Homo sapiens: one gene and its partners. The protein of the gene in region 2 interacts with the protein of the main gene of each other region in a pairwise test. Each region holds a gene or a part of one and is shown on either strand. Other genes may lie near its edges. The genes, in order: FBF1, TTC32, ARID3A and ZNF219.

Region 1 (9,210 bases), on a different chromosome or scaffold from region 2:
TTGTTTTGTTTTTTTTTAATCTACGCCATATGCCTCATGAAACCAGCTGTTCTAGAATCAGTCCTGAGAATATGGCTTAATTCCATGGAAACATAACTCCTATCTTGGGACCTGACATAATATCTATCTATCCTGGGGAACTGGTAATATGAGACTTATAGGTTACAGCAGAAATGCTACATGTTGACAAAAGCCTTAATCGTTCCACTGGGAGAACTAATTGATAATTGTGTTAAGATTGAAGATTAACCCTGTGTTAATCTCACTTGAGTCTATCCTGACAGTAGTTCAGATTCTGGAAAATGATAAACTGACCTGCTAGATGTAGAATTGTTTCAAAATTAGTGTTGAAATACCTTGTTCACAGATGAATATCTGGGCAGGATCTGAGGGTGTTTGGAATGACACCCCCCAATCCAGTTGCATAGATGGGATGTCTTTGCAGGTTTGAGGAGATCATCGACCTGCAGAGCCCCCTTTGACCCAGTACCTCACGTTTTATTTAAAATCTAAATCTGGGGCCAGGCGTGGTGGCTCACGCCTGTAATCCAAGCACTTTGGGAGGCCGAAGCGGGTGGATCACCTGAGGTCAGGAGTTTGAGACCATCCTGGCCAACATGGTGAAACCCCGTCTCTACTGAAAAAAATACAAAAATTAGCTGGGCATGGTGGTAGCACGCGCCTGTAGTCCCAGCTACTCGGGAGGCTGAGGCAGGATAATCGCTTGAACTTGGCGGGTAGAGGTTGCAGTGAGCCAAGATGGTGCCACTACACTGCAGCCTGGGTGGCTGAGCGAGACTCCGTCTCAAAAAAAAAATCTAAATCTGACATTTGATGCTATTTTTATTAATATTGGAATGTTCTGTCTTGAACTTTATTCAATATAATCAAGAATAAAGATAGAGTAAACGTCACTGATTTGTACTATTAAGAGAGAAAAAATATGCCACACAACTAAACATAGGTTTAAATTATGAAGAAATTTAGAATAGAGGTTTATTAGATTTAGGGAACACTAAGAACAAAAAAGGAAGGAGTGATACCTGCCTGAGTGGACAGCTGTAAATCAGCTGTAATTACTGCAGTTGTACCAATAGTTGTGAGTGGCTCCAGTCACTTTAGGAGTCCTTGGAAGTACTTGGTACACATTTGTTGGCTGTACCTTAAAGGAAGTGGCAAGTCCAGTTTGTTCTCTCTACCACACTAGACTGCCACTGACAAGTTTGGGTCTGTTGGATTCAAAATTTTGTAAGCCATTTTCACAAGTACAAAGATACATTTTAACCTTGTCTTCTCCAAAATTACTGAGTAGGAATTTTATTTTTATCTTTTTGAGACAGGGTATCACTGTCACCCAGACTGGAGTGCAGTGGTGGGATCTTGGCTTACTGTGACCTCTGCCTCCCGGGTTCAAATGGTCCTCCCTCCTCAGTCTCCTGAGTAGCTGGGACGACAGGCACGTGCCACCATGCCCAGCTAATTTGTTCTATTTTTTCTGTAGAGACGGGGTTTTGCCATGTTGCCCAGGCTGGTCTCAGACTCCTGGGCTCAAGCGATCATTTCGCCTCAGCCTCCCAAAGTGCTGAGATTATAGGTGTGAGCCACAGCATCTGGCCCAGAGTGAGGAGAATTAATGAGATTTTTTGTGTGTGTTAGATAATATTGATTTAAGCCTTTTTTTAAAAAGTACTCTCAACCAAATACAAAATTGAAAATGTGAGGTTTAATAGAAATGTGTTGGCTATTTGCAATGGATTTTCTTCTTGCCCAAGTGTTTGGAGTTCTACTTTATGCTCTGTATTTAAAAATTAGTGACCTCAAAGCAGAGTTGATGACACAGGCTTTGGGGCCCTCATGTTCTTGTCTTTAGAACATATCACTACTAAGTATCAGCTTATCTTCAGAACATTACAACATTCACCGTGTTCATATGCTTTCTGAGAAGTCACCACTTGTAATTTCAGATCACATACACCTGAAGGCATTTTATAGTTCCTAAAGTTAACATGTTAGATCTTTTTTTTCCACCCCATGAGGGTCTCACTCTCACCCAGGCTGGAATGCAGTGGTGTGATTGTAGCACACTTTGGCCACCAACTCCTGGGCTCAAGTGATCCTCCTGCTTTGGCCTCCTCTGAGAAGCTGGGATTACTGGTGCACACCACCACACCTGGCTAATTTTTTATTTTTTTTTATTTTTGGAAATAGGGTATGGCTATGTTGCCTTGGGCCCGTCATGAACTCCTAGCCTCAGGTGACCCTCCCACCTCAGGCCTCCCAAAGGGTTGGGATTACAGGAGTGAGCTACTGCACTGGGCCAACATGTTAATTTTTTTTTTTTTTTTTTTGAGATGGAGTCTCCCAGGCGGGAATGCAATGGTGCGATCTCGACTTCACTGCAATCTTCACCTCCCGGGTTCGAGCGATTCTCCCACCTCAGCCTCCTGAGTAGCTGGGATTACAGGCACCTGCCATCACGCTCGGCTAATTTTTGTATTTTGAGCAGAGATGGAGTTTCACCATGTTGGCCAGGTGATCTGCACTCCCACTCCCCCCACACTTCCCAAAGTGCTGGGATTACAGGCATAAGCCACAAGCCACCTCACCCAGCCAACATGTTACATCTTAATTCTTGGATTTTCTTCACTGCAGGGCTTTGGGTGGAGAAATAAAACTCTTCAAATGCATGATCTTGGAGATCCCTGTGAATCAATAATTCTTTAGACAACTGCGGCTCAAAATCCCTCCTTTCCCTTTTCCGAGTTATTCCATCCATCTTATTAGAAAGGAAGTGAATTAGGTGTAGGTGGTCTGTAACACCTGCACATCTTTTTATACGTGTAGAGGGTATGCCTGGGATATATAGGTTGTCTTCAAGCAGTAGCTGCTACTACAGCTAGAGAGAGGAGGAGTGCCAGGAAACTGATGACCTGAGACCAAGAGTCTTGTTGATGTTCTGACTTAGATAAAGGTTTTGATCATTTTCATGAAATAATGCAGGGAAGTCATTTCTGCTGTTTCTTTACTACTCCATTCTTGGAGGATTAGAACAAGTCACACTGTAATTGACTAAAACGACTTTTTATTTTAAAATATTGATGGTGGGGTTTTGCTTTTTTTTTTTTTTTTTTTTTTGAGACGTTGTCTTGCTCTTTCACCCAGGGTAGAGTGCAGTGGCGAAATCTTGGCTCACTGCAACCTCTGCCTCCCGGGTTCAAGCAATTCTCTGCCTCAGCCTCCTGAGAAGCTGGGATTACAGCGCCTGCCACCATGCCTGTCTAGTTTTTTTGTATTTTTAGTAGAGACAGGGGTTTCACCAAGTTGGCCAGGCTGGTCTTGAACTCCTGACCTCGTGATCCACCCACCTCGGCCTCCCAAAGTGCTGGGATTACAGGCGTGAGCCACCGTGCCGGGCCAGTGTTTTTAACTGTCCACACTTACTAAATTTTCCAGTACTTCTTCCTATGGTTCATGATAGTAAACACAGAAACATATAAGGAACATTATTAGAGTTACCAGATGTTAGCTGTTGCATATGTGCACATTCCTAGATTCAAGGGTGTTTTTGCCTTAAATTTAAGTGGGTCATTGGTTGTCTTGGGAAGATCATGGAAAATTCGGGATTTTTTAGAATTCTGAACCAAAATATGTTTTGAGTGTTTCTTAGTAAATGTGTGATCTTCCACCTTCCACATTCAGACTGCGGACTACACTTCATAAATGCCTTTTTATTTCCAGTTATGGATTCAACTAAATGACTGCCTTGGGAGCACATAATTACTTTGCTACCTTTTTCCCCCTTTGCTGTTGTGGCTCGAGTTTGGTTCTCACCTGAGAAGATGCATTGAGCATATGTTGTTACCCAGCCCTGGCTTAATGGTGTCCTGTGGGGTAGGGGTGGGAGGACGAGGGGCACGGGGCCAGAGCATGTGAATGGATCATGGTTGGACAGCTGTGACCTGCCAGCACTGCGGGTAAGCAAAACTACAAACCGTTCTTTCCTCTGTGACATTGAATAAACCTTAATAAAATTCATAATTAGCACATACTAGAAAAAATGTGACTTAATCTTTTTGTGGGGCGACAGTATTGGGTTTCATTCTGGCTATACAGCTTTGATTGGATCATTAAACAGGTCAGTCACTTCCCTCAAGCTTTGGGGTGTGGAATAAACACCGGTGAATTTGTGGATTCACCCGTCAACCTCCCAATATCAACACATTTCTCACGCCTCCGCGTCGGCCACGTGTCAGCCCTCAGAAGTGGGCAGGAGGAACTTTTAAGCTTCCCGGCAGTTCCCAAGAGGGCCTTTGAGCCTGGCGCCCTCTTCCCGGAGAGGCGTTGGGGCAGCTCCTAGCAACGTGCCCGCCGCCGGCAGAAGCCCGGCCCCGCCAACTGCCGCGCGCGGCTCCCTGGGAGCTGTAGTTCTTCATGGCGTCCCCACCTCCTCTGTGAGGGCGGGTGAGTCGACCGCCGACTGCGACTCCCAGGATGCCTCGCGCCCGCCTTTCCGCGGGAGGCCAGACGGCTGAGGGTGCCGGCAGCGGCTGGAAGCGGGAGGCCAGTCCTGGCCGGGCTGGGCGACCCGAATGGAGCCAGGGCCGGCGCTGGTCCCAGCGGCCGCACCTCCGGGGGCACGGCGCGTAACAGGAGGCTTCCGGGGCTGAGAGCGTTACAGGCTGCGCTCCGGGGCCAGATAGGCCGGGCGCTCAGAAGGGTGACGCATTGAGGGGCGCGGAGTCTCGGGACGGAGGGGCGACTCCGGCTAGGGGTCTTGCTTAGGGGTGGTCTCGGGATCTGTAAAACGCCTGGCATGGAGTCGGCTGAATACATGTGGGGACGGGGTTACTCTGTAGCCCTTTGGCCTTGGCAAACCAAGCCTAGAAAATCCCCATAGTCTGAGAAGCCCGTACAGGATCGATAGGAGATGCCAGAAGTTCCTTGATGTGTTATGGGACACATTTGGACTTGTAGGTCGTGAAGTCGCCATTGCAGAGAAAAAGAAACAAGGCCGGGCACGGTGGCTCACGCCTGTAATCCCGACACTTTGGGAGGCCAAGGCGGGAGGATCACTTGAGGCCAGGCGTCTGGGACGACCCTGGGCAACATAGGGAGACCCCCGTCTCTACAAAAAAAATTTTAAAATTTGCCGCACATGGTGGCGTGTGCCTGTGGTCCCAGCTGCTAGGGAGGCTGACATTGGAGGATCGCCTGAGCCCAAGGAGGTCGAGGCTGCAGTAAGCTATGAGAGCTGTGATCGTGCCACTGCACTCCAGCCTGGGCAACAGAGCGAGACCCTGTCTGGAAAAAAAAAAAAGAAAGAAGGCCAGGCGTGGTGGCTCACACCTGTAATCCTAGCACTTTGGGAGGCCGAGACGGGCAGATCACGAGGTCAGGAGTTCGAGACCTCCTGGCCAACAGTGAAACCCCGTCTCTACTAAAAATACAAAAATTAACCGGGCATGGTGGCATGTGCCTGTATTCCCAGCTACTCGGGAGGCTGAGGCAGGAGATTCGCTTGAACCCGGGAGGCTGAGGTTGTGGTGAGCCAAGATCGCACCACTGCACTCCATCCTGGGCAACAGAGCAAGACTCCGTCTAAAAAAAGAAAAAAAAGAAAACACATGTATTCAGGGTGGGCTCTGTAGGTAAGCCCAGATAACCCTTGCATTCCAATAACAGGACAGGCCAATACTTGGGACATAAAGAGGACCCCTCTGACTCCTTTCTTCCAGGACATCCTGTAGGTGGGTTTTGGTAAAGTGGAGGAGGGGGAGGGAGACAGCTAATTCCGAGGAAAATGTTCTCAATGGGTCAGATTTACTGCCTATGTAAAGGGAAATATTTCCACTGTCAGTGAAAATCGTGTTGCTGGACGTGGTGGCTCACACCTGTAATCCCAGCACTTTGGAAGACCAACGCAGGAGGATTGCTTGAGCCCCAGAGTTCAATACCAACCTGAGTAACACAGTGAGACCCCGTCTCGAAAAAAAAAATTTTAAAAAGAAAAAGAATATCAAAGAGTAACCAGAGTTCATACCTGCTTTTGTGCTAAATGCTGCCTAGAAAGTAGTCATGGGTGTTGCCTGGGAAAGGGTTTCAGCCTTGGTGCCAGGCACCCACCTCCTTTCTGAAATGAGTACTTGCCACTTGCTGCATCGGCTTTCAGGGTAAGGGATGATGGCCACTGCCCTTTTTTCAAGTAATCTCAAAGCCTCAGAAAGCCCATTAAGTTATCCAGAGCACGTTTTTTTTTTTTTTTTTTTTTTGGAGACAGAGTCTCGCATGTTGCCCAGGCTGGAGTGCAGTGGGGCGATCTCGGCTCACTGCAACCTTCTCCTCCTAGGTTCAACCTAGTCTCCTGCCTCAGCCTCCTGAGTAGCTGAGATTACAGGCATATGCCACCATGCCCAGCTAATTTTTGTATTTTTAGTAGAAATGGGGTTTCACCATGTTGGTCAGGCTGGTCTTGAACTCCTGACCTCAAATGATCTGCCCACCTCAGCCTCCCAAAGTGCTGGGATAACAGGTGTGAGCCACCGCGCCCAGCCTGAGAGTACTTTGCTCCTCTTCTGAAGTGCATCCCCTATAAGGAATTTTTAATTTATGGAAATGGGCTTTACCTCTTGAATGGGCAAAGTGAGAGAACTTTGATAACCCTTGGATTCATGCTGTTAAACCTACATCTTTTTTTTTTTTTGAGATGGAGTCTTGCTCTGTTGCCCAGGCTAGAATGCATAGCATGATCTCAGCTCACTGCAACCTCCGTCTAGCGGGTTCAAGCGATTCTCCTGCCTCAGCCTGCCAAGTAGCTGGGATTACAGGTGCCTGCCACCACACCCAGCTAATTTTTTGTATTTTTTAGTAGAGGTGGGGTTTTACCATGTTGGCCAAGCTGGTCACGAACCCCTGACCTCAGGTAGTCCACCTGCCTCGGCCTCCCAAAGAGTTTTGGGATTACAGGCATGAGCCATCGCGCCCGGTCTCTTTTTTTTTTTTTTTTTTTTTTGAGATGGAGTCTCACTCTGTTGCCTAGGTTGGAGTGCAGTGGCGCGGTCTTGGCTCACTGCAGCTTCCACCTCCCCGGTTCAAACGAGTCTCTTGCCTCAGCCTCCTGCTGCGGGATTACAGATGTACACCACCACACCCAGCTAATTTTTGTTTTTAGTAGAGACAGGGTTTCACCATGTTGGCCAGGCTGGTCTTGAATTCCTGACCTCAGGTGATCCCCCCGCCTTGGCCTCTGAAAGTGCTGGGATTAACAGGCGTGAGCCATGGCGCCCAGCCAAAGCTACATCATTTTTAAGCAACCACTTTAATTTTCTTCATTAGGGAGTATGAGCCTGATGTGGGCAGAATCCAGATGAGCTGGCCAGTGCTGTGAAGGAGCTGAGAGCACCCCCGAGAGCCGTGAGATGGTAGGCAGAGTTCAGAGTAAGATGCATGGAAAGCGAACATGCCTCCCATCCTGCATCCCCAAAGATCTTGACTGCATGCAACACTCTGGGGGCTGGGCGGCAAGGACCAGGATGGAGACCCTGGAGAAGAGTGACAGGAGGTGGCATTGATACCAAACTTTCGACGACCAAGGTTTCTTCTGAGACTCTGAGTGTCCAGCTGGAAGCGTTTTTAAGTGTCTGTCACTGGTATTGAGGAGTCAGGGGCACGGAATAGAAGACATTTCCGGTCACATGACATCTCGGCTGGGAGGGTTTGCATGTCGTGTCTGGGAAAGGAGTGACCTGCCCGCCCATTGGCACCCATCGCTGGTTAGCAGGGCTGTTTCCACGCTCTGAATGAGTCCGTTCTCAGAAACTATAGGAACACATAAAGGACTTACATCTCTAAATGCCATTGGTGCTCTTGCCTCTGGTTACTTGGCAAAAGGCAACGCAATTCATTCTGCATTGCCAATTTCCACCTGTGTTCACTGTTTGGTTTTCTTGATGTGATTTGTTTTTCCCATTTTAGGCACCAAAAACCAAGAAAGGATGTAAAGGTGAGTGGAGAGATGGAACATTACTCTTAAGCCAAATATATATCTTTTTCCCCTTTGGTCCTGGAACAATGAGATGTGTTTATTTAAATGTTTTTGGGCCGGGCACGGTGGCTCACACCTGTAATCCCAGCGCTTTGGGAGGCCGAGGTGGGTGGATCATGAGGTCAGGAGATCGAGACCATCCTGGCTAACACGATGAAACCCCGTCTCTGCTAAAAATACAAAAAATTAGCCGGGCGTGGTGGCGGGTGCCTGTAGTCCCAGCTACTCGGGAGGCTGAGGCAGGAGAATGGTGTGAACACAGGAGGCGGAGCTTGCAGTGAGCCGAGATCTCACCACTGCACTCCAGCCTGGGCAACAGAGTGAGACTCCGTCTCAAAAAAAAAAAAAATGTTTTTGATCAGTCTTGCTGTTCTTCCCATTATTCCGTAGGCAGCCTTGGTCTTCCTTATGTTGCCTCACTGGTCCTCAGAGAAGTTCAGACGTAAATAAGATATGAGGTTTTGGAAAAAATCCTCCTCCTTGGGCTCTGTATCCAGAAATATGTGGTTGGGATTCAGGGTGGGAAAGCTGGTGTGGGGAAACGAATTCGATATTCATACTTAGGTTCCCCCACATGCCTCCATCAGAAAGTGGCCATTGATGAGGACATCCAGACCAGTTCTGGGGGGTCTTAGATGGAAGGGTACAAGGAGCCTACTTGTCTGAAAGTAGCCTCCATGTGCCTAGAAATCTTGGGCACTCTTCCCAGCGAGCTGCACTGGGCTGTGTTCAGGGTCTGGAAGACTGATCTTTGGCCAGTGTGTCATGGTAGGCAGGTAGAATATAGGTTCTGCTGAAAATCTGCACCATCATCCTTTCAGATAGTTGTGTTTTTTTGTTTTTTTTTTTAAGACGGAGTCTTGCTCTGTTGCCCGGGGTAGAGTGCAATGGCGTGATCTCAGGTCACTGCAACCTCTGCCTCCCAGTTTCAAGCAATTCTTCTGCCTCAGCCTCCCCAGTAATTGGGATTACAGGCATGTGTCACCATGCCCGGCTAATTTTTGTTTTGGTTTTGTTTGTTTGTTTGTTTTTGAGACGGCGTCTTGCTCTGTCACCCAGGCTGGAATGCAGTGGCGCGATCTCGGCTCACTGCAACCTCTGCCTCCCAGGTTCAAGCAATTCTCCTGCCTCATCCTCTCCAGTAGCTGGGATTACAAGCATGCGCCACC
Region 2 (4,541 bases):
GATCTAATTCTAAGTCTAACATTTTATGATTCTCTATATTACGAATATATAATTAGTATTAAAAACTTATAACAATAATTTTGAAACTTCGATTTAATGACTAAAACCTTACTGGCATCCTGAGATTGCTTTTTTCTTTAAACTCTCTACTGGGAGCAGTTCAACTAGTGTCATGTCACACATAGGTGAAGGGGAGTGGTACCGTCTTGTAATCTAGGTTTTAACGGGGGTGCTTAGTGGCATCCAGAAGTATCCCTACATCCAGTCTCCATCACAGCTCATAGAATAGACGTTTTCTAAAATTGCGACAGTTCCTCTCCATCGTTAGCAAACTTGGTTTGAAGGAGGCCCTTGGGCTGTGAGTGCCTCTTAGGGTAGCAGTAGTTACAGTCCCTGTCTGAAATCTCAAGGATCAAGATATTAAGAGAAGTAGCTTTTATTTACACTAACTGCCTTCACAGATACTTTCGGAGGACTATACTTTTTACTACGGGGTATTACAAAGAAGTGACAGATGAATTCTCTGTTTGGTTCTAATTTGAGAATTGCTTTGGGAAAAAAGAAAGGGAAACAGAATCATCCCTGACTCAGAGCAGAGGCACTAATGTTCTCTGTGCAGACTATTTGTCCTGTGCAGAGAAAGGTTCAAGGCAGCCAGGGGCTGTGACCTGTTGAGCTGGTGGCTGGTCAGAGCTACCTGGCTGTACAGCCCAGGAATGGCTGCTAATTTAAAGCTCTTTGGGCAACCTCTAGTTCCCTCAGGTGCAGAGCCAGTTCTGCACAAAGGACATCAAAATTGACTGGAGCCCTGAGGGGGTCTAAAGGAGCCCACCCTCCTAGCAGGAAGCCAGCCTGGCATTGGGGAGGATGCCAGCTGAGGCTGGAGGGAGGGCAACTCTGTCCCCAGAGATAACTTCCTGGGGATCGTAGCATGTTGAATTTTCACTTAGCGTTAACTTTAGTTTTTTATTGGTGGAAAATGATTTCAAATCTTATTGTTTTAAGATCACTTAAAAATTTGAGAATGAAATTGATTCACATTGTGACATATCCATAGCAAACTCGGGCTTTGGGCTGGCTTTCCCTCTTTGCTTAGTATTTATCTGTTCTGTCTTCTTTGCCCTGCTGGTGTGTGCTTAGAAAAATGAACAATCATTTTAATGTTATATTCAGCAGAACAAATTGGCAGTGAACACACTGTAAAGTTAGTATGCTTTTCAGGTTGACATTGCAGTGGTATAACCCTACAAAAGTAGATAACAGGGTTAAACAAAAATTGATTTTAGCTCTTTATTTGTACGTTTTTTCTTCAGCTTGGATTTTCAGTGTTGATGCTGCATGTTATAGGCTGTGAAGTTTGACAATACCCAAAAGAGAATGAAAGTGGAAATGAGAGGAATTTGGTAACACGGTGTTTTTAATGTGAACTTTTTGTTTAAAGCAAATGCAGCCCTGAGGATTTGGCTACTGCATATAACAACAGGGGGCAAATCAAGTACTTCAGGGTTGATTTTTATGAAGCCATGGATGACTACACATCTGCCATAGAAGTCCAACCCAATTTTGAAGTTCCATATTACAACAGAGGGTTGATACTGTATAGGCTGGGTAAGAATTTTTTTTCTTTTTGAGTTTTGTCATTGACTGTATTCTGTTATTTCAGAGCTTTCAAATGTTGTAAAACTAACGTGGTAATCAAATTTTAAAGTTCTGTGAAATTTAGGTTTAGAGCTTGGAACAAAGGAAGTGTCCCTGAGTTTATTTTAGGCTTTTGATAGGCGTTATAGATCACAGCAGAGCACTGGGGTGGGAATTGGACCTGGGCGCAGGAGCAGGGGTGACCCCATTACTTTGTGCTTGTGCATTCCCAGCTGTGAAATGAGGGCAATTCAGATGTTCACCTGTGAAACTTTTCTGAGTTAAAATCTTTGAAGACACACAAGACAATAGAAAGTGAAGTTTAGATTCTTGGATTAAAGGGACCATAGGTAGTGTTTCTTCATTTAAAGTGTCAAAAAGAAAATTAGTTCCCGTTTCTTAATTTTACTGCAATTATGTAAAACAGGTGATACAGTTTTATTAAAATTTTAAGATGATTGATAATATTTACCTGTTAAATCTCAATAAATAAACCCATAGCTAATTTTAGGTGTATTATTCCCTAAGGGCACACAAAATTACTTTGATATACACATCTCTATATTATTAAGATAAAAAGATTCCTTTACTAGAAGTGACTGAAAGCTCATAAATATAAAAGCAAAAGTACATGTATCAAAGCTTTTCCATGAATAATATATAGAAATACTCGGTTTCTTTTCTCTTTTCCATTTTTTGGGTTCTGGTACAGGATATTTTGATGATGCTTTGGAAGATTTCAAGAAGGTCTTAGACTTAAATCCTGGATTTCAAGATGCTACTTTGAGCTTAAAACAGACTATTCTAGACAAAGAAGAAAAACAAAGAAGAAATGTTGCAAAAAATTATTGATATTTTTAACTTAATGGAAGTATTGATTCATGATCCTTACATCTGCATCTAGTTATCAGTAATTTAGATATTGAGCTATTTTGATTTATATTTAAGAAATTAATACATTAGCACTGAAAGTTAAATAGTGTGTTTAAGGTAGTTAATTTCAGGTTGAATGGGTTTTTTTTAATGAAGTGTAAATAATACCAATGTATAAGTGTATATTATTATATTAAATATTATAGTAAAAAGGAATGTGTGGTATTTTCTTCAGCAAAACTATTTTTGTGATTTTTTTATTCTCAACTTTTTATTTAAAAAATGTTACATCTGCAGAAAAGTTGAAAGTATAATAAACTCTTCAGTTAAATTCATGAGTTGTTAATATTGTGCCACATTTGCTTTTTCTATTTAAATATATAACTTTTTGCTGAAACATTTGAAAATAAGGTGACGAGGTCACAGTACTTCGCCCCTAAATATTTCAGCCTACATTTTCTAAGATTGAGGACATCCTCCTTTATAACCACAATACCATTATAATACCTAATAAAATGAATAATTCTGTAATGTCAGCCATATCCAGCCCATATTCCAAAGTGTGTAGATTTTTATTTGGATCTAGAGCCAATCAGGTTTCAATTGCATTTTTTTTTTTTATGTTTCTCTCAGTTCTTTTAATCTAGTCCCCTGTCCATTTTCTTGCCCTAGCATTGGCTTTGAGAGAAAGGCTATTTTATATAGCTAGGCTAGAGAGACATAACATTTAGGCTTAAAAATAAACATGTCCTACAATTTGAAAGAGTTCAGCTTGAATTACACTTGATTTTCTCAAGTAATCATTGATAAAAATAGGTTAAGATTTAAATATTGAACATATTTTCTGTCTCTGGATAATGACAATTGTTATCAACATTTACTGAATACTATAAGCCAAGCACTGTTCAAATCTCCATAATAATTTGGTGATCAGGTAGGAATGTATAGAGAGGTGAGGAAATGACAAAAAGCACTTAGTAAGTATAAAGTTTAAAAATCTTTTATTTTGGTGCTGCCAACAATTAGGCCCTTATGAAGCTATCAAAAACCGGGAAGAACTTGAAGGGAAAACAGACTAACACCAGCCATATGCCATCTACATTTTTTGTATTTTATTGTTGTTTGGCTTCCAAAGATTCCCAAACTAGTTTATTACTGCTATGGAAAAGCTGTTCTGTGGTGGAAATTACCCGAATCAGGAGAAAGGAAAGTTTGCTTTGTGTCTTCAGAGGAAGGCGCAGGGTAACTTCTGTGGCCTCAGATGCAATCAGCAGCAGCAGCCTTAAAATGCTTTTTTTGTGTGTGTATGAGTAATCTCATGAAGCAGAAAAAGTAATTGCCCTGTTTGTAGCTCATAAGTAATATCTGGCAAAATACATGGAGAGTTTGGGCTGTAGGTAAGTGAATATTAAGAGGAAATTAAGTTTCATGGCCTAGAAACAAAGTCTCTGTTTCTGGAATTATTCATACTTTCCAAAACGGTTTATCTTATATTTGTTGGAAATCTAAAAAAATTTCTAAAATTGCATTAAAATGTAGAAAAATCCTTAGGAAAACTTTTTTTTTAAAAAAGCAAGTTTCCTAGACCTTGGGAGGGAAAGCTTTAAGCCATTCCACCCAGAGAAGCAAATGCTTAATGTTTAATTTTATTTTCTCTTGACTCATATTCTCTTTACTCTTGACTGGGATCAGATGGAATATGAAAAGGAAAAATTGTTTAACATTTTCATGTGGTTTGTTAGATTATATTCAAAATTTCTTCATCCTTTATCAGAAAAAAAAAAAAAAAAGTCACTTAAGTTCAGAATCAGCAGTTGCTGATTGTAGACCCAGGCACTCATTTTCTCTTGTCTTGTTACTGGAAATAAAGAATAATTCATTTACCTTGTTTAGCGTTGAAACTTTAGGCATTATTCAGATTCTAAGTTTCTGATTGACCAAATAATACCTTGGATATTTACCTTAAAATATATTCATTACCGTTCATATTTCCCACATTTCAGTATTCGTTATTTCCTTTTTCTACTAGA
Region 3 (8,688 bases), on a different chromosome or scaffold from region 2:
CCTCCCGGGTTCAAGCGGTTCTGTCTCAACCTCCCGAGTGCTGGGATTATAGGTGCCCGCCACCACACCCAGCTAATTTTTGTATTTTTAGTAAAGACAGGGTTTTGCTGTGTTGGCCAGGCTGGTCTCAAACTCCTGACCTCAGGTGCTCTGCCCACCTCAGCCTCCCAAAGTACAGGGATTACAGGCGTGAAGCACTGCACCCAGCTATGTGATCCCATTTCTATAAAATGTCCAGAACAGGCCAATCCACAGAGGCAGGAGGGGATGTGTGGTTGCCAGGGGCTGGGGCGTGCTGGTAGAATAGGGGGATAATAGTTAAAGGGTCAGGGTTTATTTTATTTTATTTATTTAGAGACAGAATCTCTCTCTGCCACACAGGCTGGAGTGCAGTGGCATGATCTCGGCTCACTGTAACCTCTGCTTCTGAGTTCAAGTGATTCCCCTGCCTCAGCCTCCCAAGTAGCTGGGACTACAGGCGCGTGCTGCCACGCCCGGCTAATTTTTTATATTTTTAGTAGAGACAGGGTTTCACCGTGTTAGCCAGGATGGTCTCGATCTCCTGACCTCGTGATCCGCCTGCCCCGGCCTCCCAAAGTGCTGGGATTGCAGACGTGAGCCACTGCACCCACCCTATCCTTCTTATTTTTTCGAGACAGGGTCTCGCTCTGTCACCAAGCTGGAGTGTGGTGGCGCGATCACGGCTCACTGCAGCCTTGTCCTCCTGGGCTCAAGGGATCCTCCCACCTCAGGGTCCCAAGTAGCTGGGACTACAGGTGTGCGCCACCACACTCAGCTAATTTTTGTAGAGATGGGGTCTTGCTATACCGCCCAGGCTGGTGTAGAACTCCTGGGCTCAGGCTATCTGCCCATCTCGGCCTCCCACAGTGCCGGGATCACAGGTGTGAGCCACTGTGCCTGGCCCCAATCGTACAATTAAAACAGTGAATTGTATGGCATATGAAGTATAGCCCAATAAAGCTGTTTTTTAAGATTCATCTCAAATTCATTCAACACTTATTAGAATTGTTGAGACTAAAGGTTCAAATCCTTAAGCAGCTGAAGATCTGTGATTAACCGCCTGTGCGTGTAAAATCCCATCACGGGCCGGGCGCGGTGGCTCACGCCTTTAATCCCAGCGCTTTGGGAGGCCGAGGCAGGCGGATCACAAGGTCAGGAGATCGAGACCATCCTGGCTAACACGGTGAAACCTTGTCTCTACTAAAAATACAAAAAATTAGCCGGGCGCGGTGGCGGATGCCTGTAGTCCCAGCTACTCGGGAGGCTGAGGCAGGAGAATGGCGTGAACCCGGGAGGTAGAGCTTGCAGTGAGCCGCGATCGCGCCACTGTACTCCAGCCTGGGCGACAGAGCGAGACTCCGTCTCAAAAAATAAATAAACAAATATATAAATAAAATCCTACCATGGTGGGGTGCGGTGGCTCACGCCTGTAATCCCAGCACTTTGGGAGGCCAAGGAGGGCAGATCACCTGAGCCCAGGAGTTCTAGACCAGCCTGGGCAACATAGCAAGACCCCGTCTCTACAAAAATTAGCTGAGTTTGGTGGCGCCCGTCTGTACTCGCAGCTACTCAGGAGGCTGAGGCAGAAGGATCGCTTGAACCCAGGAGATCGAGGCTGCAGTGAGTTAGGACAGCACCACTACACTCCAGCCTACCCGACAGAGTAAGACCCTGCCTCAAAAATAATAATAATCCAATAAAATCCTACCGTGGCCGCTTTCTAGAAGCTGGGCCTGCTGTGTGGGTGACAGGAGGCCACCAGGAGGCTACGTCAGACATCAGGAGGCTGAGATCCTAATCACTGCCCGACACGTGCTGGCCTCCAAAACTGCACGTCCCCAGGCCCCAGGCAGCAAGGTTCCAGGTGTCCAAGGAAAGAACCCGTGGCCCTGAGCCTGCTGCGCCCGGCCCCCCGCCGCGGCCTGGCCACCCACCAGACCTGCAGCCGACAGCAGAATTTCACAGCTGTCGAGGATTTGCAGGCGGAAGTTAGCCCCGAGCCCTGCCAGGACCTGGGAGGAAGAGGCAGAGACGGTGCCAAGCGGCCGGCCAGCGGGCCAGGCCTGCCACGTGCCAGGAAGGGGGTGGGGCAGGCGCCAGAGTCAACAGGGGCCCCAGTAGGGGCCGGGCGGGAGGTAACACTGACTGGGCTGGTTGGGCCCAGGCCACTGTTGACACTGGGAACACAGGTGTCTGGCCAGCTGGGCGGGCGGCGGCATCGGCGGCTGGACCTGCCACGAACAGCCCAGGATAAGATCCCAGGACTGGCTGGGCACCGTGGCTCAGGCCTGTAATCCCAGCACTTTGGGAAGCTGAGTGAGGCAGATCACTTGAGCCCAGGAGTTTGAGACCAACCTGGGCAACACCGTGAAAGCCCTTCTCTAGAGAAAAAAAAGTCACAGGACTGCAGGGCGGGGGCCTCCCCCCACCCCCGCTGCCCACGACCATCCCTAGGCCCTCATCTTCTCGGAGTTCCAATCCCGTCTCCCGCAAGACCCAGAGGCGGCACCCGGTCCCTACACACAAGCCGAGCTTTAGTCCACCTCAGGGCCTCTGCACTGCCCGGTACACCCAGGGGGCAGGTGCGGGGCGGCAGGATCTCCAGGAATACCTGAGGCTGCCGGTGACACAGTGACCCCCCTCCCTGCACTGGCCTCAGTTTCCCCATCTCGGCTTCCCGCTGCAGAAAAACCCCACATGGCACCTACAACCCTGACCCGCGGTGTCGCCCAGACAAGGTAGACAGTGGCTTCTGCCTCCTGCCTTCGCTCAGGACATGCTGCGGGCTGTGGGGTCAGGGCGCCTGGCCCCTCATCCCTGCCTGGTCTGGGCCAGTCACCCCAAAACTCCCCCATCGGCTTTGGGCCTTGGAGGCCGGGGCTGTCTGGGCGGGGCGTGTGTCCAGGGTCAGGGGGTCCCATTCACCTCTGACCCCCGAAGGACCGACTGAATGGGGGGCCTTGACCCTCCCTCTCGGCTTGGCTATAACCCTGCGGGGATGGAGGTCTCCGTCCGGCTCCTGCCCGCCCCTCCAGCCCAGGGCTCCCTGCGGGCTGAGTCCCGGGCAGATGGCGAATATTGGGTGAATGTTAAATTAATTGGTGAATTAAATTAATGAAATTAAAGAGAATCCACTCTCAGCATGCTCATCCGTATCATCTTAAACCCAGAAAAGATCACAAGACCCCTCCTCCCAACACTGAGCCTCTGTTTTCTCACTGGCAGAATGGGACGCGCGGCAGTGTGGCCCGTGGAGCATCCCCTTCTGCAGGAGTGGGAAACTGAGTCACAGAGCAGGGTGGAATCAGCGAGACGCCCCCCCCCCCCACCGAGTCCCCGCCGCTGCCCTGGCCATTCTCCCACACCGTGTCCGGCTTTCAGCTCTTTACTATTTGTGAGTTTCCAGGCAGCCCAACCTTAAGTCTCTTGAGGGCTGCTGGGGTTAGGGCCGCCCCTTAAGCTACCCGGCACCCCTGGAGTCAGGAGCCCCGGGGAGGCCCCCCTGGGTGTCTGTGCCTTGGCCCCTCCTAGGAGGCTCCTCAGAGCGGATTCTGGAAGCCCAGGGCCGAAGGGGCTGCCCCGAGGCAGGCATGTCCCAGCGTGTCCATCATCCACCTCCCTGCGGGAGCCCAGACCAGCTCCAGCCCCGGGCGAGGAGGTGGCTCCCCCCAGCCGCGCCCAGAGGTCGAGGCAGAGCCCAGCTGGACGAGGGCTGGAATGTGAGCCTGGCCACCATCTGGTTTCCATCTGCCCGGCCCAGCACGGCCCAACTTCAAAGCATCCCCCGCCCGGCCACTTCCTCTGGCCTGGCCGCCTGCGGGGAAAGGCTGGGGCGGCCCCTACTTCCTCCTTCAGCCTGGGGTCCCTGAGACCCCCTGCCGGCCCCAGCCTTAACCGCCCACTCGGAGCCTCACAGGCCCTGGCTCCTGCGTCTCCTGCAGCCACACCTGAGCCACCCCCACATCCCCTCGGCTGCCAGCTGCAGCCCGCAACCCCCCACGGCTCTCCACAGATGCCAGGGGACAGAGGAGGCCAAGTCACCACGTCACCAAGGCCCCGGCCTCTCTGCCCGCATCGCCCGCAGGCCTGGTTCCTCCAACCCAAGCCCAGCTCGGGCCGGCGCCAGCCTCTCCCTCCCAGGCCCACCTTTCCATCTCTGCCCCATCACCTCCGATATGGGGGCCGTGGAGCCCCCCAGGTTTCTCCTACCCGGCCGGGTGCTCCTCACACATCCCACATCAGAGCAATGAACAGCCAGCTGGTCGAGCCCACGCCCAGGAGGGAAGCACAGGAAGCACAGCTACCGCAGGAACCCCCAGCTCTCAACTCGACGCCCGGCTCAGCACACACCCCGTGCAACGTGGGCCTTCAAAGGGCCCCACTGGCCCAGGAGCAGGTGCCTCAGCCGCCACGCGGGACGCGCCCACTCACCTGCTTAAACTGCTCCTCGTAAGTCCAGTCGCCGTGGTCAGGCGGCTGCAGCTGCGGGGCTACGTGGGCGGCCCCTCCGGGGTGGGCAGGGCCAGGCCCCGGCCGCTCCTGGCCCCCCAGCACCCTGGGAACGCCATCGCCGCGGAAGGCCTGGGGTGGCTGGGCCTTTCGGGGGAACAGTGCCGTGGTGCCCAAGCTGGCAGGGCCTGGGGGGCCCAGCCCCTCCTCGTCCTCCTCCTCCTCCTCATCCTCGTAATCCTCCTCCTCCTCCTCCTCATCCTCCCCGAGGTCTTCCTCCATCTCCTCCTCCTCCCATTTGGGCTTCCTGGGGTGAGCAGAGGGCAGGAGTCAGGGGAGAAGGTGCTGGCTCGTCCCAGCCCAAGGAAAGACCCACTCCCCGCCCAGCCTCAGTTTCCCTCTCTGGAAATAGGAAGAGCCGGCCGCCGCCAGCTCAGACTGCAGAGAGCGCTCATGAGCACAGCGTGGGGCACCCGTGACGCCCACTTTGTTTCCAATTAGCCCAGAACAGCACAAGCCGTCCCTACAGCGTGAATTTTGGGGCCTTGAAAAGCATCACGCAGGCAGCCACGGTGGCGCACACCTATAATCCCGGCAGCACTCTGGGAGGCCAAGGCGGGAGGATCCCTTGAGCCCAGGAGATGGAGGCTGTAGTGAGCTATGATGGCACCACTGCACTCCAGCCTGGGCCACAGAGCAAGACTCTCTTGGGAAAAAAAAAAAGGGAATCATTACGGCAGGCTGGTTCCTGCATCCTGCACCATGCATGCTGTCCCAGCTCCACCTCCCCTTCCCTCCACAGGGAGAATTCTCCCACCGCCATCTGAAATCCGCCCCACCCTCGCCACTGCCCCTCCACGGCACCCTCCTAGACTTTCTTGGCAGCCGTTTTTTTTTTTTTGTCTTTTTTTTGAGAGGGAGTCTCGCTCTGTCGTCCAGGCTGGAGTGCAACGGCGCAATCTCGGCTCACTGCAAGCTCCGCCTCCCGGGTTCATGCCATTCTCCTGCCTCAGCCTCCCAAGTAGCTGGGACTACAGGCGCCCGCCACCACGCCTGGCTAATTTTTTTGTATTTTTAGTGGAGACGGGGTTTCACCGTGTGAGCCAGGATGGTCTCGATCTCCTGACCTCGTGATCCGCCCACCTCGGCCTCCCAAAGTGCTGGGATTACAGGCGTGAGCCACCACGCCCAGCCATTGGCAGCTGTTTGTACAACCTGATATCACCTGCTTCTTTGCTGCTAGGTTTTGTTTGGTTGTTTTTTTTTTTTTTTTGAGACACAGTCTCACTTTGTTGCCCAGGCTGGAGTGCAAAGGCACGATCTCGGCTCACTGCAACCTCTGCCTCCCAGGTTCAAGCGATTCTCCTCCTCAGCCTCCTGAGTAGCTGGGATTACAGGCATGAGCCACTGCACCCGGCCAGTTTTGTTTTTTGAGACAGGGTCTTCTCTGTTGCCCAGGCTGGAGTGCAGTGGTGTGATCACAGCTCAGTGCAGTCTTGACCTCCTGAGCTCAAGCAGTCCTTCCGCCTCGGCCTCTCGAGTAGCTGGGACCACAGATGCATGCCACAACACCCGACTAATTTTTGTACTTTTTGTAGAAATGGGGCCTCACTAGGTTGCCCAGGCTGGTCTTGAACTCCTGGGCTCAAGCAATCCTCCCACCTCGGCCTCCCAAAGTGCTGGGATTACAGGCGTGAGCCACTGCGCCCAGCATCTTTGCTTGCTCAGGTCCTCCCAGGAAGATGCGGGTTCCTGGAGGCCAGGATCCCACAGCAAGTGAGCCCTCAGCCAGCCCTGGGGGGACCCACACGCTATGCAGGTCCAGCCGGCTGCAGATTTTATCTGCCCCTGCCGCTGAATCTGCTGTAGCCATCGGTGGCTAGGTTGCTTTAAGTTAACTAAGATGAAACAAAGTTGGCCGGGTGTGGTGGCTCACGCCTGTAATCCCAGCACTTTGGGAGGCCAAGGCAGGCAGATCATGAGGTCAGGAGATCGAGACCATCTTGGCTAACATGGTGAAACCCCGTCTCTACTAAAAATACAAAAAGTTAGCCAGGCGTGGTGGCGGGCGCCTGTAGTCCCAACTACTCGGGAGGCTGAGGCAGGAGAATGGTGTGAACCCGGGAGGAGGAGGTTGCAGTGAGCTGAGATCACGCCACTGCACTCCAGCCTGGGCGAAAAGAGCAAGACTCTGTCTAAAAAAAAAAAAAAAACCCACATTCTTGGCTCACTGCAATCTTCACCTCCCAGGTTCAAGCCATTCTCCTGCCTCAGCCTCCCGAGTAGCTGGGTTTACAGGCTTCTGCCACCACGCCTGGCTAATTTTTGTATTTTTAGTAGAGATGGGGTTTCGCCATGTTGGCCGGGCTGGTCTTGAGCTCCTGACCTCAGGTGATCCACCCACCTCGACCTCCCAAAGTGCTGGGATTACGGGCGTAAGCCACAGCACCCGGCTAAAAAAACCATTTTTCTTTTGAGACTGGGTCTATCTCTGTCATCCAGGCTGGAGTGCAGTGGCACAATCACAACTCAACTTCTGTTCTCAAGGGATCCTCCTGCCTCAGCCTCCCCAGTAGCTGGGACCACAGGTGCACCACCATGCCTGGCTAATTTTTTAATTTTTTGCGGAGATGGGGTCTTGCTATGTTGCCCAGGCTGGTCTCCAACCCCTGGGCCCACGTGATCCTCCCACGTCGGCCTCTCAAACTGCTGGAATTACAGGAAGGAGATCCCGCGACCTGACCCTTACTCCCATTCTGCAGATGAGCAGAGTGACACTCAGAGCCAGTAACAGCCCCCAGAAGGCCCTGCCCCAGACCCCAACTCACATGTCCTCGTCGGAGGCCATGTCCTCAAAGTGCTCCTCTCCTGGCCCTTCTCTGCCTCGCCCGGGTGAGCCCGGTGTCCCCTCCCGGGCCGCGTCCTCCTCCTCCGAGCCTGGGGGCCCATCCTCAGAGCCGCCGGGGCTGGCTGGGTGTCCCAGGCCCGCAGCTGCAGCCCGCATGGCTGCCAGTGCGGCCATCTGAGCCCGCTGCATCCGGGCACTCTCGGGCTCTCTGTCCTCGTCGGGGGCAGCCCGGGCCCGGCCGGGGGGTGCAGCAGGGGGATCGGGGGGCAGCTGCTGCCGGGCCTCCAGCTCCTGGCGCGCCCGCTGCTGCCGCTGCAACAGCGTCTCCATCACGGCCTGTAGTTTCATGGCCCTGCGGCCCGGGCCACCACCACCACCACCACCACCACCACCACGGGCGCTAGGGGTGGGCGGCGGGGGCGGCCCCTGCGGGGAGGGGGCCCGGCCGCACTGCAGCGTGGGGGCCGCGGGGGAGCCGGGGCAGTGCAGGGTGGCAGGGGGCGGGGGCGGGGGCCGCCGGGCTCAAGCTGAAGGCTGATGGGGCATGCCTCTTCCTCACGCTGGGCTCCAGGGGACAGAGGCTGGCATCCGGCTCATTCACGCATTTGCAGAAACCTGAGGGGGAAAAAAGGCACAGTCAGAGCAGGCCTGAGCTCCTCAAGCCCCCTCCTTCCTTCCCCATGAAGGCCCTGGGGATCAGCTCTCATGTCCATCTCATGCAGGATGCAGACCTGGAGGCCTTCTTGGAGGCAGAGGCGCAGGCTCTTCGCATACAGCCTACTGTGGGCCTGGGTAGCAAGGTCGCCCCGCACGGGGCCACAGAGAAACACGCTGTGGCCAGACTGTCTGCCCCAGGAGATCTTGGATTATTGCTTCACAAGCAGGGTGGGGGAATGGGCGTTCCTGGCCTGTGATTGGCCAGCGGGCTCCGGGCCCCAGTCAGGTGGGTTCTAAGTTCCAGTCGCTGCCTGAGTCCCTGTTGGAGCGGCCCAGCCTGGCCTCCAGGTATCTAGGTATCCTCCCATCTCAGGCCAGACTGGAGATTGAGCGCCTGTTGTATACGGGCCCTGGGCTAACCCTCCCCCCATCACACAACTCAACAGCAACGCCCAAGCCACAACTTCTCTGGACCTCAGGTTCCCTACCTGCAAAACAGTGTGGGTAACAGTACCCCCCCAACCCATGGCACTCAAGGAGGGATGAATCGAGTTCAGGAGGTTAAGGTGGGCACCAACAGGTGTCAGAGAAGGGGGCACCAGGGCGGTCCCATTTCATGGTTGAGGACAACTGAGGCTCAGGGATCCTCTGCTTGGAGACATGGCGGTGGGATTTGAACCCAGGTCTGGGTGACCACAGAGCCTCCCACGCAG
Region 4 (8,516 bases), on a different chromosome or scaffold from region 2:
CCAGAAGTCATCTAGTCTACCTTTCTGCCTCATATAGAATAGTATCTGGTCAAGGCTAAATGAATGTGGGTCTAACCTTTTTTTTTTTTTTTTTTTGTCTAAGAAAGGATATTTGAGATATAAAGAACTTCCTTACAATAGGCATCACAAAACTGAAATGGGTTACTGAGAAAGAAAAAGATGCAAGCATTACTTTGCCTAAGGATCTTTAATAGAAAAGAACTGTGCCAGGAGTCAACCTGCCTGTCAGCAGAGAGAAAAGGCTCTGGAGGTCCAAGGCTTCTTTAATTTTTGACATTTAGTGGATGTGGTAAAACTCCATGAAGGGGCAGGTACCTGTTACATGTGGAATCTGGGCTATAGGATTATTATTAGCAGATGATTAATTAACAAAGTGTCCTTGTCCAAGGGTCACTAGACGACCTCCACTACCACTTAATATGTGTATTTCTGTAGCTTCAAATTAGGGCACCCACTCTCATCCTCTGGATCCTTTCCTGGGACTAAGAGCCTAGCCAGGCTTACTGAATAGTGTCACAAAAGGTGAATTAGAATAGGACTGAAGGGTACAAGGCTATTGTAGGCCTAGTCTGAACATTGATAACCCTACAACCTTTACTAAATCACTTAACCTCCCAGTTTACTCATCAGTAAAATAAGGGGATTGGACTAATTTATAGTGTTAGTCCCTTCCTGCTCGAAAAAAGTTTGTGATTCTAAGTCACAGGACTCTTTTGGACCCCAGAGAGATGTTAAAACAAATGGTCATCCCTTCAGTACCATGGAGAGTGCAGTGGGCTACCACAGAAGCCACTTGGGCCACCTCAGTACCATAGATAGAGCTATGAGGTGCTAGAGGGGCTGTTTGCCATTTTAGCATCGCAGATACAACACAGAAAAGCTAGAGCATTTTTTTTTCGTTCCTATCTGAAAACCATAGAAAAAAACCCAGTGGTACCAGAGGGATTATTTTGGCCTTTTAGATGTCACTGAAAATAGAAAGAGCTAATAGAAAATAGATGTAACTAGAAGAATTTTAATTAGCTATAAGGAGCATCCTGACAGTTACAGTTTGTACATCCTGGAATGAGTTACTGAGGCATCATATTTGGGTCCATCACATTCTGTTGCTCTCCTGGGGATTCCCGGAACATCCTGGTGTACAGCCAATCTGGTATATTCAGAGGAAGCAGATGGTGGAGGCGTGGGGCGGGGGGGCTGGGAATACTGCATGGTCATAGCTGACTAACCTATGGGCACATACTCTCATTCTGAGAAGATTCTAGGGCCCCTAAAACTGTCTGTAGGATAGCAAGCAAAATCTCTTAGGAAGCTGGCCTCATATCTGAGGCAAGAAGAGTCAGAAAAGGGCAAAGCTTCCTATCCCAAAACAAAACAACAATAAACCACTTTGCACATAGCAGTTTCCAGAACAGAAATAGAGTGATATACAAGAAGGCCCAAACTGAAGCTGAATTCCCCAGCACGGAAAGTTTCCCCAGAAGGTGGCCTAAAATCAACAAAACTCACTGAGATACCTTCTTAGGCCCAATGAAGATCTGAATCATCTCCATATCAAACCAGGTTCCAGACACCTGATCCCATGATTTTTTTCTCAGTAGGGGAAAGAACTGACAGGGACTGGGATACTATGAACTGCCTTGGAACCGAGGTCATGCATATATTGCCCCTGGACAATAATCACAGAGTTTTCTATAGTCAGGCCTTAAACACCATCCTCGAGACTTGGCCAGACAGCAGCACTGACCTACTTTCCACCCCCACTGGGAATCAGGGGTTATCTTGCCCTTATTTGGATTCTATAAGGATGCGGGGCCAGGGATAGATATCAGAAACCTTTCAAAAGCAGTAGGCCAATTATCCTTACATGCTGGGGCAGCTGGTAGGGAAGTGGGTGTGGACCACTAAACCTTACTCAGTAGAGAAGGATGGAATGGTTGGTGAAAAGACTTAGAAACAACAAGGACAGGTACATAGAAGTATTTGCTAAATGGACCACAAAGACTGTCCCTCAAGTCTTGTGATTCAAAAGTTTTTAGGGTCAAAGTGTAAGGAGCAAGGGTTCAGGACTTCTGGGGTCCAGTTGTAACTGCCTCTGGTCACCTCTAACACGATGGTTTTCCCTCTTGAGAATCCTAGACCTCCCAAATCTGCTAACAATTATGATTACCACTGCACTAGATGGGGTTAAAAGGAAAGGGAGCTTCTAGGGCGGTCTACGTTCAAAAGACTACCTTGATCACACAGACACACCAGTAGTTCACTTTTATGGTCTCCTCTCCATGGCCCTCTGAACCTCACTGCTCAGATAGCTCCTCCTAACCCGCTCCACTCTGCAGCTCACCAGCCTTTTTAGACTGAGATCTTGGTAAAGCCTCCTTCCCTCTGTCCTCACTCTCCTGAGTTAGGGACATGGAACCTCAGCCATGGACTTCAAAGGTACAGCAGGAGGCGAGAGGAAGGCACACCTGCTCACCTGCTGCCATCCCACCATGGGGAATCTTATCCCAGAGGCATGTCCTAACGCAACCCCGATTTTGATTTTGAAAGTTCTGGAAGACCTGGGTTTGGGAAAGAGGGGCATGTAGCCAGCCCTAAGTCCCTTTAAGTGGAGCTGACCCTAGAAAAGTCAGTCTTAGCACCCACGTGAGCCTCGGTCCTCAGACTGGGAGGTAGGGGCGATCAAGGGAGCCTCTGGGAAAATCCCCCTCCCAGAAATAGATTGCTAAGTAGGGTAGGACCTGCTATCCTGCCGGAGAGGTTTTTCCAGCAGCACCCCAGACCCCTCCCCAGGAAGATAAGCCAGAAGGATGATGGGGGGCAGGGTTGGGAGATAGGGAGGCCAAGGCTCAGCTACCCCCGGCCAGGAGAACAAAAGCTGAGTTACAGCCGCCTCCGCTGCTGCCGCGGGCCGAGCTCTTTGTGACACTTTGTTTGGGACGCAAAGAGGGAAGCACCCCCCATCCTTTCCCCTCCCCCGCCACCCCGTGCTTCCAGAGAGTTTGGGCTCCTTCCCCCTCCCCCACCAGCCCTACCTGGGCCGGGGGTTGGGGGGTGCACATCCACTCAGGCTCGCGGCTCTGCCGCCCCTCACCCCCAGGTCCCTCGCGCCCTGCCTTCGGGCCCCTACAAAGACACCCGCCACCTCCCCCGCCACATCCCCCCCGTTGGCCCTTCCCTTTGGTGTCTGCTCCCCCAGCTCTTCCACCTGGCCCCCCCTCCCTTGGGGCCCCCCAGCTCTCCAGGCTTCCGAGGCCGCCACCCCCACCCCGCCCCCCCAGGAGCTCTGGGCGAAGTTTGCTTGGGGCCGAGCCGGCGCCCCTCCCCCGCCCCCGCCCCCTGCACCTGCTCCGAGCCGGGCGCGCTGAGCGGGCCCCCCCTCCGGGAGGGGGGAGGGGGCCGGGGGCGGGGGCCGGGTGGCGGACGGGGGGGCCCGGGAGTCGGGGGAGCGGCTACTCACGAGCCCCGGGCGGGCGGCGGCGGAGCGGGCGGCGGCGGCGGCGGCGGCGGCGGGCGGCGGGCCGGCGGCGCGGGCGTCAGCGTTACGTGGGGCCGGGGGAGATGCGCCGGGCCCCGGCCCCCCCGCCCCCGGCCCGGCCCCCGCCCCCTCCCCGGTCCCCCGCCCCCGGCCCTGGCCCGCATTGTGTGCGGCGGGAGGCGGCCCGGCCATTAGCATGCGGGGGGCGGCGCGGCGGGGCTGGGAGCCGCGCGGGAGCCGGGCTCTGGCTCCGGGGACAGGGAGCTGGGGACCCCGGGAGCCGCGAGAGGCGGCCGCCAGGGGCGGGGTGCGGGCGGTTTGGAGACGGGGGGCGCTGTCGGAGGGAGGGAGGAAGGGAGGGAGCGGGGGTGGGGCGCACAGAGGATTCCAACAGGAGACTGGAAGAGATTTTGAAAGGTCATCTCGTCCTTCCCCCAGCCTCCAAGCAGCACTGCCCCTCCCTCCCTAAACCCGGACATACCAGGGAAGGAGTTGGCTCTGCCGCTCTTTCTGCCCCAACATGCACAGACTCGGGAAGTTCTTCCTGGGGTTTTATCTCAAAGCCTCTCCCTTACAATTTCTGTCTCTCTTTTGGGGGAGGAGGAGGGGCGATTATAGAGATAGTTAATGTCGGCCGTATAAGAAACATTATTAAAGTTACTCTTCGGTCCTTTCCGTTCTTGATAAACAATTCCTGCGCCTTCCTCTCGAATTCTATTTTCCATTCCTCAAGTCACTTTAATGGCTCTTCAATACAACAAATATTTACTGAGTGCTTACTAAGTGCCAGGCACTGGGCTCAGCGCTGTGAGGGATGAGAAAGAAGTGGTACCTTCCTTCCAGGCGATTGTAGTCTAGACTACAAACTGGTAAGTAGTATACTCAGATTTAGTCAATATTTACTGAATGCCTGTTCACCTATCTAATAGTATATAATCTTTCCAATAACCCTCTATAATTAAATTAGCCCCCATTTACAAGTAAGAAAAATGAGGCTTCAGGAAGTCTGTTTCCCCAGTGGCCTGCAGGCTCGGGGATCCTCAGTGCAAGCCCAACATCTCACATCGCCACCAAATAAAATCAATGCACGTGGGAATTGAGGAGGAGTAGACACACAGCAGTTTTCTGGATCTCTTTAAAACGTGACTCCCACTCCCCGGGAAAGAAAAGAGTAGATACAATGACCCGCCGATGTTGGCACAGCACTGATGGGGCAGGAGTGGCTTACAAAAGATCACTTGCCTCCCAGGACCCTGCCTCCCTCCTCGTACTAACTTCTAGAGTCTTCTGGCGCAGTCTCCTCTTATCGTCAACAACAAGAAATAATAATAGTGATGATGATCATAGCCACTAACATTGAGCACTTGTGTACCAGGTACTGGGCTAAGCTCTCTTCCATGCTGAAAGCAACCCCTTGAGACTGGTATTATTAACTTCCTTTTATAGATAAGGGAACAGAGAGATTAAGCAACTTGCCAAGGGCACCTAGGTAGATCTGGGATTTGTTTTGATCTATAGAGTATATTTGGGCCCAGCTGGTTCTGCTTCCGACTGTAGAAATGTGTCCCCAGCTTCCTTCTGAATAACACTTTTAGTGTATGGGCATCAGACTTATCGGTGTGACCTCATCAGCACCACTAATAGTTATTAAACACCCACCCTGAATCAACAACTCTTCACAGTCATATTGTTAGCCCCCTTTTATCAGTGAATAAACTGAGGTGCGAATAGGTAGAAAAACATATCTATCAGGACAGACACAGTGGCCCACACCTGTAATCCCAGCAGTTTGGGAGGCCAAGCAGGGAGGATGGCTTGAGCCCAGGAGTTTGAGACCAGCTTAGGCAACATTGTGAGACGACCCTGTCTCTACAAAAAATTTAAAAATTAGCCAGGCATGGTGGCATGTGCCTGTGATCCCAGCTACTTGGGAGACTGAGGCAGGATGATTATTTGTGCCCAGAAGGTGTTGGCTACAGTGAGCCATGATCATGCCACTGCACTCCAGCCTGGGTGACAGTGAGCCCCTGTCTCAATAATATAATAATAATAATAATAATAATGTATCCAAGATCACACAGATGGAGAAGCAGCAGAGCTAAGATTCCAGCTCAGGTCTGTCTGGCTATGAGGCACCTTCTCTCTCAAAAATATTAATTGTTGCAATAGCATCCTTCCCAAGACTCACTATTTGAGGACCATGAGATAGATAGATAGATAGATAGATAATGTCCAGTTGCAGGTTATCATTGAATCAAAAACAATCCCCACCATAAACAGGGTCCCCCCCATCCATTGAGTCAGTGTTCAGTTCAGAGTAAAACCTTCAAGAAAGAAGGAAGGGAGACTGTCCAGAAAGTGAGAGGCAAGAAAGCCCCTGGAATTCAACCTTACCTGGTCTGGGGGCAAAGCTGCAAGTAGTAATGACAGGGGACCAATCCAGACAGAAAGTAGGATCTCTAGGGAAGGGCACATAATTTGAGGAGGAAGCCAAAGAAAGGAGTAAGATCATATGGAAATGAGGGGGAATTGAGGTCCAGAGTGATAGTGTCCATGGGGATGAGGTAAGTGAAACCAGAAAAGGAACCCAGGATGGGCAGAAATGAGGGTAATGAGAAATGGGAACAGAGTGAGGTCGGGCTAGACATCTTGTGGAGTGAACTGAGGCCGGTATCTACCCAGGGCCACTCCCTAGATCCTTAGGCCTTCATAGAAACCTTTGCCCCACCACACCCCATCCCTGACAGCCTTCCTCTGCCAGGACAAGTTTGTCGTCTGCTCTGAGCTATCAAGCCCCTTAGGAGACCTAGGACCCAGCTGGGTCCCATCCCTTTGGAGTAGCTGCTTCAGACTAGGTAGGTGTGAGGACCTGGACCTCAAATCCCTGGATATTGGGAGTGGGCAGAGGTGTAGCTGAAAGATACGTTGTTGCATGTCCTGTCTCCTAATAGACAGAACCTATAACGCATTTTTCCCAGCCTAGGAAGCACCTAATTCTTGTGGGCAAAGGAGCCATGGAAGATAGAGCTGGTGAGCAAGAGCAGGAGAGACACAGCCTTCGTCTGGAAAAGCTACAACACTGGGCAAGGCACAGGCAGAGTGGGCACCTCTTGGTGCTAGCGGTGAGGCCAGGCTACCCCATCCCAGGTCTCAGCATGTCCACTTCTACCCAATTCAATTCCATCCATCCATCCATCCATGTTAAGTGAGCACCTACCATGTGCCAGAAACTGAGCTAGGTTCTGAATGGGAGGAGGGTAGAGGAAAACATAGAAATAAACAAGGCAAGACCCTTAATCTCCCAAGTAGCTTCCATCTTGTGGGGGAAAACATACAGGTAAGTAACTAAACTACAATATGAGGCAGAAAAAATTAAATGATACTTAATTTTTAATGATCACGTCCTTGCTCTGGGTTGACTGCTTTCCTCCACCCTGCATTCAATCCCATTTCCTGATCTCTAAAGAGGTAGGAGTTACGAGAAGGGAGGGAATCCCTGACAGTTCCTCCCCAATTACCCTACCCTTACCCCCAGGTGAGCCAGCTATGGCTGGCAGTGGTTGTGGTGCCCCTTGCTGTCTCAGTCGCCTGCCTGAACTCTGATTGTCACATGGCCACAGCGCTGCCTCTTGGGCCTGGAGCCTCAGTAAGACCCACCACAAGGGAGGGTGGAAGGTCCCAGGGCCCCTTCCTAACGGGACCAGAGCTCAACACTTGCCCTTCTCACCATTCAGGGTCTCCTCACTGGGACTGTCACTCTGGAGCTTCGCAGAGCACCCCGCCTTTGGAAGGTGAGAGGGAAGAAAACGCAGCACTGTCCTCCCACTCCCTAAAACAGACACCTACAACCCTCAGCCTAGGAAGTAAGTGGCTAAGTGTTGACTCATTCTCTCAGCTGTCACCACTGACTGGCCTCAATCACTGAGGAGGAAAGCAAAAAAGTTAAGAGGGCTTATGGCCCTGTTTGGAGGCTGAGAAGCAGAAGCTGAGTTTTGTCTTCAGCTAGGCTGCAAGTGGGGATTGAGGTTGGAATGACTCCCCTAGGCTGGGCAGGGCTGAGCTGGCTCACTGGCAGGTGCGGGCCATGATGATATTCAACACCTTCAACTTGATCTTGGGTTTCATAGTGGTGGTGGTCGAGGTGATGAAGACAGCCTTGGGGCCTGCCCCAACTGCCTCCTCCCAGGTACTGGTCAATGAAGGAGAAGGTGGGAGGATAAGGAGGCAAGAGGAGGTGGGAAGGGAAAAGGGCAGGGGCAAACAGGTGCGGGGTCCCTGCATTCTCAGCCCTGTCTACCTGCAGCATGCTGGCTTGCTGGTGCTGGAACTCAGTGCTGAGGCCTTCACCCTAGGGGGAGTGCTGGTCTCAGTGCACGCCCTATTCTTGCTGAGCCAGAGGAAACCAGGATGCTGCAGGAGCCAGAGTCTGCACTATCAAGAGCTGCAGGAGGTATGGGGGCAGGGAAGAAAGCACGAATAGCTAGCTGCCAACTAATTTTTCCACTGCCTATCCTGGTCAGTGGCACTTAAGGGAAAATAATGGGGCAGGAGAGAAAAGAAGAGGTCCTAGAATGAAACTGATTGGCTTTCTCTGGCTTTGAACATTTCTCCCCTAATGGTGGGTAAGAGGAAACTGGGAATCCAAATGATTGAGGTTAAAAGAGTGGGAAAGCATTAGGAAGCTGCCTAAATATTGGCAGGACTATGGGAAACAGGATAGAAAATTGGGCAGGAGGAAGCAGTTGTTTCTGTCTGGGGTTTCTCCTTTCTCACCTCTACAATTTGCTCACACCTGTCTCTGGTTTTCAGGGCTTCTCTGAGTTGGAAGAGGTTCCTGGTTTGGAGAATGGTCCCACGGTGGCCAGCACAGGAGCAAATGAGAGGGTGGGACAGCGGGAACAGACACGTGCTGCTCTCCTTCCACCCTGAGAGAATGCTCTCCAGACATTCCTGCATCCCACCCCACCAAACTCAGAAGCTTGCTGGGATCCTTCGAGTCCAATAGGAAGTCCGGGAG

What was found.
Region 1: the proteins of TTC32 (region 2) and FBF1 interact in binary tests that used the Homo sapiens proteins (3 or more experiments, as listed by UniProt).
Region 3: the proteins of TTC32 (region 2) and ARID3A interact in binary tests that used the Homo sapiens proteins (3 or more experiments, as listed by UniProt).
Region 4: the proteins of TTC32 (region 2) and ZNF219 interact in binary tests that used the Homo sapiens proteins (3 or more experiments, as listed by UniProt).

Annotation. Positions count from the first base shown.
Region 1 is NC_000017.11:75,936,355-75,945,564, reverse strand, and holds the start of FBF1 (fas-binding factor 1), read left to right. Parts: upstream 1-4,522; 5' UTR 4,523-4,717; intron 4,718-7,332; 5' UTR 7,333-7,415; coding exon 7,416-7,418; intron 7,419-7,971; coding exon 7,972-7,999; intron 8,000-9,210. UniProt on the Homo sapiens protein: Keratin-binding protein required for epithelial cell polarization. Involved in apical junction complex (AJC) assembly via its interaction with PARD3. Required for ciliogenesis.
Region 2 is NC_000002.12:19,894,936-19,899,476, reverse strand, and holds the end of TTC32 (tetratricopeptide repeat protein 32), read left to right. Parts: intron 1-1,441; coding exon 1,442-1,608; intron 1,609-2,350; coding exon 2,351-2,490; 3' UTR 2,491-2,846; downstream 2,847-4,541.
Region 3 is NC_000019.10:928,507-937,194, reverse strand, and holds part of ARID3A (AT-rich interactive domain-containing protein 3A), read right to left. Parts: intron 8,182-8,688; exon of another isoform or gene 8,050-8,181; intron 7,934-8,049; 5' UTR 7,667-7,933; coding exon 7,299-7,666; intron 4,778-7,298; coding exon 4,453-4,777; intron 1-4,452. UniProt on the Homo sapiens protein: Transcription factor which may be involved in the control of cell cycle progression by the RB1/E2F1 pathway and in B-cell differentiation.
Region 4 is NC_000014.9:21,094,831-21,103,346, forward strand, and holds the start of ZNF219 (zinc finger protein 219), read right to left. Parts: upstream 3,826-8,516; 5' UTR 3,482-3,825; intron 1-3,481. Other genes in the region: TMEM253 (transmembrane protein 253), read left to right, coding at 6,514-6,621, 7,035-7,145, 7,234-7,290, 7,575-7,685, 7,803-7,949, 8,309-8,428. UniProt on the Homo sapiens protein: Transcriptional regulator. Recognizes and binds 2 copies of the core DNA sequence motif 5'-GGGGG-3'. Binds to the HMGN1 promoter and may repress HMGN1 expression. Regulates SNCA expression in primary cortical neurons.